2 linked regions of the Homo sapiens genome follow. The protein of the gene in region 1 interacts with the protein of each later gene in a pairwise test. Each region holds a gene or a part of one and is shown on either strand. Other genes may lie near its edges.

Evidence for each region. Proteins that work in one complex are often made in the same cells at the same time.
Region 2: the proteins of PKN2 (region 1) and FAM193B interact in a two-hybrid assay, tested with the Homo sapiens proteins (one large-scale study listed by BioGRID and IntAct).

What each region holds. Positions count from the first base shown.
Region 1 is NC_000001.11:88,687,265-88,690,793, reverse strand, and holds part of PKN2 (serine/threonine-protein kinase N2), read right to left. Parts: intron 1-3,529. UniProt on the Homo sapiens protein: PKC-related serine/threonine-protein kinase and Rho/Rac effector protein that participates in specific signal transduction responses in the cell.
Region 2 is NC_000005.10:177,534,064-177,537,592, forward strand, and holds part of FAM193B (protein FAM193B), read right to left. Parts: intron 2,683-3,529; coding exon 2,295-2,682; intron 1-2,294.

The DNA.
Region 1 (3,529 bases):
CTGTCCCATGCTTTCTTGATCTTCATTTTTTACAGGCAATATTTATGTATATAATGTTACACAAATTTCATTTTTGTGATTGCAAAAAAAAACCAAGTATGATAATAGAGCTAGTTTCAAACAAGATTTCATCAGATAAAATTAAGACAAGCTAGACATGCATCAAGATAAAGATTCTCTATTTCTGTTTCATTAAGGAATTACTTTTTCATTAGTATATTTTTCCCACTCTAAATTTTAAATCTTTTTAAAGCTTTTAACTAGTTTTCAACTTTGCTGTCAAGTTTGAACTCTGCTGTATATCAAAAGTTGATCATATTAAATGTCATATACTGTAGAGTAAAATTGGCTTTTGAAATAATATAGACATTTGACAATTATCAGCACAGTATATTTTATGAGGGAATAATGTAGAATTAACTGTTTTATTCAAATACCATTTATGGTATGAAAGTAACATTATTTTAGGTGATGTTTACAAACTACTACTTTATTTGTTTAAAAGTAAACATGCTTCTGATGAATGGCATGAAAATTTACCATTGCCAAATTCAAAAAGCAGAAATAAGAGAGCCCAAGGAATCAGATGCTAAGCTCTGGGATAAAGAGATGATGTCTAAAAGGTGCCCCTACTTGTCCCTATTTCAACACTATGTGAATGGTAGGAATTGCATGATACTAGACCTAATCTCTATTACACTAATGAGAGATGACAAAAAAATCCATTTTAGAGCCATCATTTAGTAACACTAGTTTTAACACAGACTTTTATCTTGGTAGTCAAGAAATATTTGGAAAGTTATTTAGTATGTTTAATTCAGCAAAGTATGCGCTGCAAATTACAAACATTGTGGTAGTCTATAAGAGCAGCAACAATCAAACCTAAGCCGGAAAAACACACTGTATTGCTATATTATTCAAAGAAATTGTTGCTATACTTCATTACTGTCTATTACTAAATCCATACTACTGCACTTTTCTTTGAGACAGGTTCTCACTCTGTCACCAAGGCTGGAGTGCAGTTGCGTGATCTCAGCTCACTGCAACCTCCGCCTCCTGAGTTCAAGCAATTCTTGTGCCTCAGCCTCCCAAGTAGTTGGGATTACAGGCACACATCACCACACCTGGCTAATTTTTGTATTTTTAGTAGAGACAGGGTTTCACCAAGTTGGCCAGGCTAGTCTCGAACTCCTGACCTCAGGTGATCCGCCTGTCTCAGCCTCCCAAAGCACTGGAATTACAGGTGTGAGCCACTATGCCCAGCCTGCACTTTTCTTCTTAATAAAGCCGTGACTCATAATTGAAATATTTTGAGATTAAAAAAGGCAATAAAAGCTAATTAGATCCACTCATCTAGAACCAGTGGCAAGAAAAAAGTTTTTAACCTACTGTGATTTCTATCTTAAAATTCTCTGAGCTTCATTTTTCTTCAAAATTCTAGTAAGTAAAATGAGATAAAGAAAAAAAAGAAAAAATGGACTCTACAGCCATGGGACTTTTAGGTGGAAAAAGTCTGTCAGTCTCTAAGTGACAGAACTATGAGCAACTTTTATTTTCTTTTGTGCTTTTCCACATTTTCTGGATTTTCTGTAATACATGTGCATTACATTTCTAATTTGAAAACAATGTAAAGTCTGTCTTAACTACCCTGTTTACCTTCTCATACCACCAACCCCCAAACCACCCTAAAATTTTAATCCTCCCAACTCAGACCTTCCACTTTCCAGTGTCACTGCAAAATTAGATGCCGTCTTCTCATTTTCCATTAAATGAGTAAACTACCAGTGTGCTATATGGAAGAATGATGTAACTACTATAGAAATCCCTTTTGTACTTTTAAAGAGAATATTTTTGGGAGAAGGGATTAGAAATGTAAATTAAAGAAAACTACGTAATTTCATATGTCAAAGATTATAATGAACTTCTCTTAAAATAACCTAGACATCCCTCCTCCTACGTGACAAATGGAGCATTCTCATCAATGTATTGCGCACCTACTAAGTGTCAAACACAGAGCTAGGTTACATGTGAGTATAAAATTTTAAAGCAAAGCACAGTCTACAGAGTAATGTTAAATCTTTTGGGAAGTTTTGGGCAAGCATGTGACACCTTTCATTAGAAACAGTAATTCTTAATGAAGAAACCCTGTAAAAAGATTATTTGTACTATTATTCTTTGTGAAATATTAGACTGTATCTACAATAATAAAACACTGCTAAATTATAGACTACCAAGTGGAATGTAGAAATCATTTTTCCTTGTTACAGACGGAGCTAACAAGTAGTGTAAAGTTAATGTTGGTTAATTACGTTTTTGGCCAATTTGTAGAAAGTTCATACAACTATAACATTAGATGCAAAACATTTATAGTTCCCCAGAACTGTGGCAATTTAAATAATGGTGTAGTGGCGCCGGGCATGGTGGCTCACACCTGTAATCCCAGCACTTTGGGAGGCCGAGGCAAGCGAATCACGAGGTCAGGAGTTCAAGACCAGCCTGGCCAACATAATGAAACCCCGTCTCTACTAAAAATACAAAAAATTAGCCGGGTGTGGTGGCAGGTGCCTGTAATCCCAGCTACTTGGGAGGCTGAGGCAGGAGAATCGCTTGAACCTGGGAGGTGGAGATTGCAGTGAGCAGAGATCACACCACTGCACTCTAGCCTGGGTGACAGTGCGAGACTCCGTCTCCAGAAAAAAAAAAAAGAATAGTGTAGTGGGAAACATACAGACCTGGGTTCAAACTCAGACACACAATGTAACCATGAGCAATTTCCTTAACATTCTTGAACTTGTTTCCTGATCCACAACATGGAAATAACACCTACCTTATTGGATTGTTGTGAAGATCAAATAAGGTGTATAGGACACTAAGTACAATGTCTGATATATAGCAAATAATTTTTAAAATGTTATTTGTAGTCTCTTATAATTATCTTCTAGTACAATTATCTATACTCTCTTCTGGAAAGCAAAAACCTATCTTGTCATCTTTATATCCTCCAATATAGCTTTGGTAGATACTACATAACTGTTTGGTGAAATTAACCCCTGTAATTTAAGGGTAACTATCTCAACTTTCCACTTGAGCAAGTTACCTCTATCTAAATAAAATCTGCTGAGAATGGAATTTAAGATTCCCAGACCAACACTTTATTGGGCATTTTGATGAAGAAAATGAATCTCCAATAATCAACAAGGTAGCTTTGTTAGTACACTGCTCAATATTTGGTCTGCATTCTACAAAATTACCATTGTAGCCAACACTTTCATTCTGAGATTCTTTACAGTTTTCATTAATCCAGGTTTCTTGGAAATAGACTTTAGTTTCTTTGGCATTGCAAAAATGTCTGTTTTCTGCTATACTTCAAATAAAAAAAGAGAATACAACACAACAAATTAGTTATGAGATAAAAATTAGAAATTGGCCATTTTAAACAGCCGATTTTTATTTTTACTACAGTAAATATTCTTCCTTATACCTTGAAACCTCTAGCCACCAAAGTTTACATAGTTTATTAATGCTTCCT
Region 2 (3,529 bases), on another chromosome or scaffold:
TGGGCTGAGGCTGAGGTGGCAGGGGAACTGAGAGCAAGGACGGAGCTCAAGGAGCTGTGTGGAGGCCCAGCTTCCAGGGCAGTCCAAAGCAGCCCTCTCTGCTGCTAGAAAGGATGCTAAGCATGTGACGTGGATTAAAAAAGATGGTGGCAGGAATCATTATCAGTGGTGCTTACAGAAGTTTGTTCTAAACCAACCATTCATTATCTATTGCATTAGCAAAACTGATTTTTTTTTTTTTTTTTTGGAGACGGAGTCTCGCTCTGTTGCCCAAGCTGGATGGAGTGCAGTGTTGCGACCTCGGCTCACTGCAACCTCCGCCTCCCAGGTTCATGCGATTCTCCTGCCTCAGCCTCCTGAGTAGCTGGGACTACAGACACACGCCACCATGCCCAGCTAATTTTTTTTTTTTGTATTTTTAATAGAGATGAGGTTTCACCATGCTGGCCAGGCTGGTCTGGAATTCTTGACCTCGTGATCTGCTCACCTCAGCCTCCCAAAGTGCTGGGATTACAGGAATGAGCCACCGCGCCTGGCCAGCAAAATTGATTTTATTTTCTATTTTGAGACTGGCTCTCACTTTGTTGCCTAGGCTAGAGTTCAGTGGCACGATGTCAGCTCACTGCAGCCTGTATCTCCCAGGCTCAAGCGATCCTGTCCCACTTCAGCCCCCGCAACCTAAGTAGCTGGAACTAGAGGCATGCACATTATGCCCCACTAGTTTTTAAATTTTTTGTAGAGACAGAGTCTCATTATGTTGCCCTTGCTAGTCTCCAACTCCTGGGCTCAAGCAATCTTTCTGCCTCGGCCTCCCAAAGGGCTGGGATTATAGGCATGAGCTGGGCACCAGGCCACAAAATTGATTTTAGAAAAATTAAAATAGTGTGCTTGTGAATATGGGAAACCAGCACTCATTGGTGGTTACATCAGTTTGGAGACCCCTTTGGATAGCAGTTTTTCAATGTGTATTAAGAACCCTCAAAGAGAACAAAAAACACCTAAACAGCCTTTAACTAGTAACTTTTTTCATTCTGAGAACTTGATTCCAACAAGAAAAATCCAAAAGAGGAAAAAGGCTTTAAGAAAAGACATCTTTAGAGACACTGTTGGTAATGTTAAAATGTCCGAATAACCCAAATGCTCAGCAACTAGAGAACAGTAACATGAATTGCGGTCGATGTTCTCCAGCCTTTGAAGCTAGAGGCTAAGAACACCACAAGAGAACACAAATATGCTGAGGAGGCAACGCTAAGTGAAAACCGGCGGGTGGCAGACTGCAGACACTGTCAACCCGGCATGTGCCAGACACAGGAGACTTTCCAATAGGAAGATAGAAATGCATGATAAACACAGATCTGATTTCTAACATAAAAATATACCTCTATCTTCTCCAAAGAATTCTCTTTCAAATATATGTTAGTATAACCTTTCTTAGTACTTAAGAGTTACTTCTAGGAATCTCCCTGAAGGACATGATTTCTCATTCAAACAGATTTAGGTGCAGGGATGCTTATTACAGTCTCATTCATTATGGTTAAACAACTGGAAATGCCTAGATATCCAGGAATAGGGGAATGATAAAGTATGCTTGAGCTATACAGTAAGACATTATATGACTATTGAAAAGTTTCTTGAAGAATTTTAACTGGGGAAATGATCATGACATAATGTTAAAAAATTACTACTACACGAAAGGTATATCAAATATCTAAGTATGTTATTTATATACAGAAACATGGTGAAAATATACCACAGTGGTAGAAGTTTAGGTTGTGAAGACATTTTTTTCCTTATACATTTCTGAATTGTTCCAAGTTAAAACAAAACAAAACACAAAACAAAAAAACCCCACATACTATTTTTTTTTTTTTTTTTAAAGCTCTGTCACCCAGGCTGGAGTGCAGTGGCATGATCAATGCTCACAGCAACCCTAAACTCCTGGGTTCAGGCAATCCTCCTGCCTCAGCCTCCTGAGTAGCTAGGACTACAGTTGCATGCCACCATGCCTGGCTAATTTTCAAAATTTTTTGTAGAGAGGGGGGTCTTGCCATGTTGCCCAGGCTGGTCTCAAACTCCTAGGCTCAAGTGATCTTCCTGCCTAGGACTCCCAAAGCGCTAGGAGTATAGGTGTGAGCCACTGTGCCAGGCCAAAACACATACTTCTTTACAATTGAAAAATAATGAAAGGAAAGACATAGTCTACTTTTTAATTGCCACCTCAAAGTTAACCCCAAATTTTCCAAAATTCTAAGTTCAAGTGGGTAGCGAGTTTGCCCTTCATGCAGCACACTTACCTGTGAGTGCTAGGGAGTGGCTGAGAGCTCGGGGGTGGGAGGAGAGGCCCACTGCAGTGCCCACCACAGTGCCCGCTGCAGGGGTGGCTGCACCCCGAGAATGGTGGGGGCATCTTCAGGAGCGGCATGCTGGTGGAGGGTAGATGGGAGCTCTGACATGGCCCTGGAGTGTGGGGGGCAGTGGCAGCAGCAACAGGGCACTCTGAAGCCTGGGCAGGGAAAGGTGCTGCCGGGGTGGTGGGCAGCAGGTGTGGGTGGGGTGGGGAGCCAAAGGAGCTGGGGTGAGACGGGATTAGAGATGCTGGCTGCGGGTGGTGGCCGGTGGGGCTGTTAGGGGGAGCAGTGAGGTCTGAGTGCTGGTGGTGCTCCGAGACGGGGAAAGCCTCACCTGTGGGCAGAGGGAGGAGAAAGGGGTCAGAATGGGAGCCCAGACCTGGGAAGGAAAGCCCACAGGCTCACTGCCACAGCATCCTGCTTCTGTGACAAGAGGGCACAGCCTCTCAGCACAGGGGACCCTGGAGCTGCAGAAGATTCTGTGTGGGCAGCAACACAGCTGAGCAGGCTCAAGGAGCCCAGGCCCAAGCAAGAAGGTACTAGGAATGCTGATTCCACACAAGGCCCCATGCCTTTTCTGCAGCATGAGCAGAAGATATGCATTCTGTCTCTGAGGGTCTCTCTAGGATCTGCTTGTACACAGGTGCTCCTCAGGCCTGGAGGATGATCTGCAGAAGCCAGTGGAGCAGCAGGCCCAGGCTCTGCCTCTGTGCCACGTGTACCACAGCAGCAGGGCATGCCAGACCCCTGAGGGCCCCAGATTTCAGACAAGTGGGAAAAAGGTTCTGATGACTCTCTAGCTTATGTACCAAAATTAATGGAATTATATACTGCTCAACACTCATAATTCTGGGAGCAGACCCACTTTGAAGAACTCAGCTCCTTCATTTAGAAGTATGACAGTAAATCATATTTACATAATAAACCAATAACCCAAGAGTTTTGTCTCTGGGTCTCTGAGAGTTATTTCAGGGTCAAAGAAGACTTACACAGCTGCTAAATTAGCTAATAACTATTACGGCTTACACTGCCAATCTCTTGGGCATTTAAATTCAGTGCTTTTATACCCATCCCTTAGGTGGGGAAATCAAGGCCTAGGAAGACAAGGTTGCCCAGGTCCTCTGTGGTGCTGCAGGGGTCAGGTGATCTAAGTCCTATGACTCCACTTTCTACTCAGACAG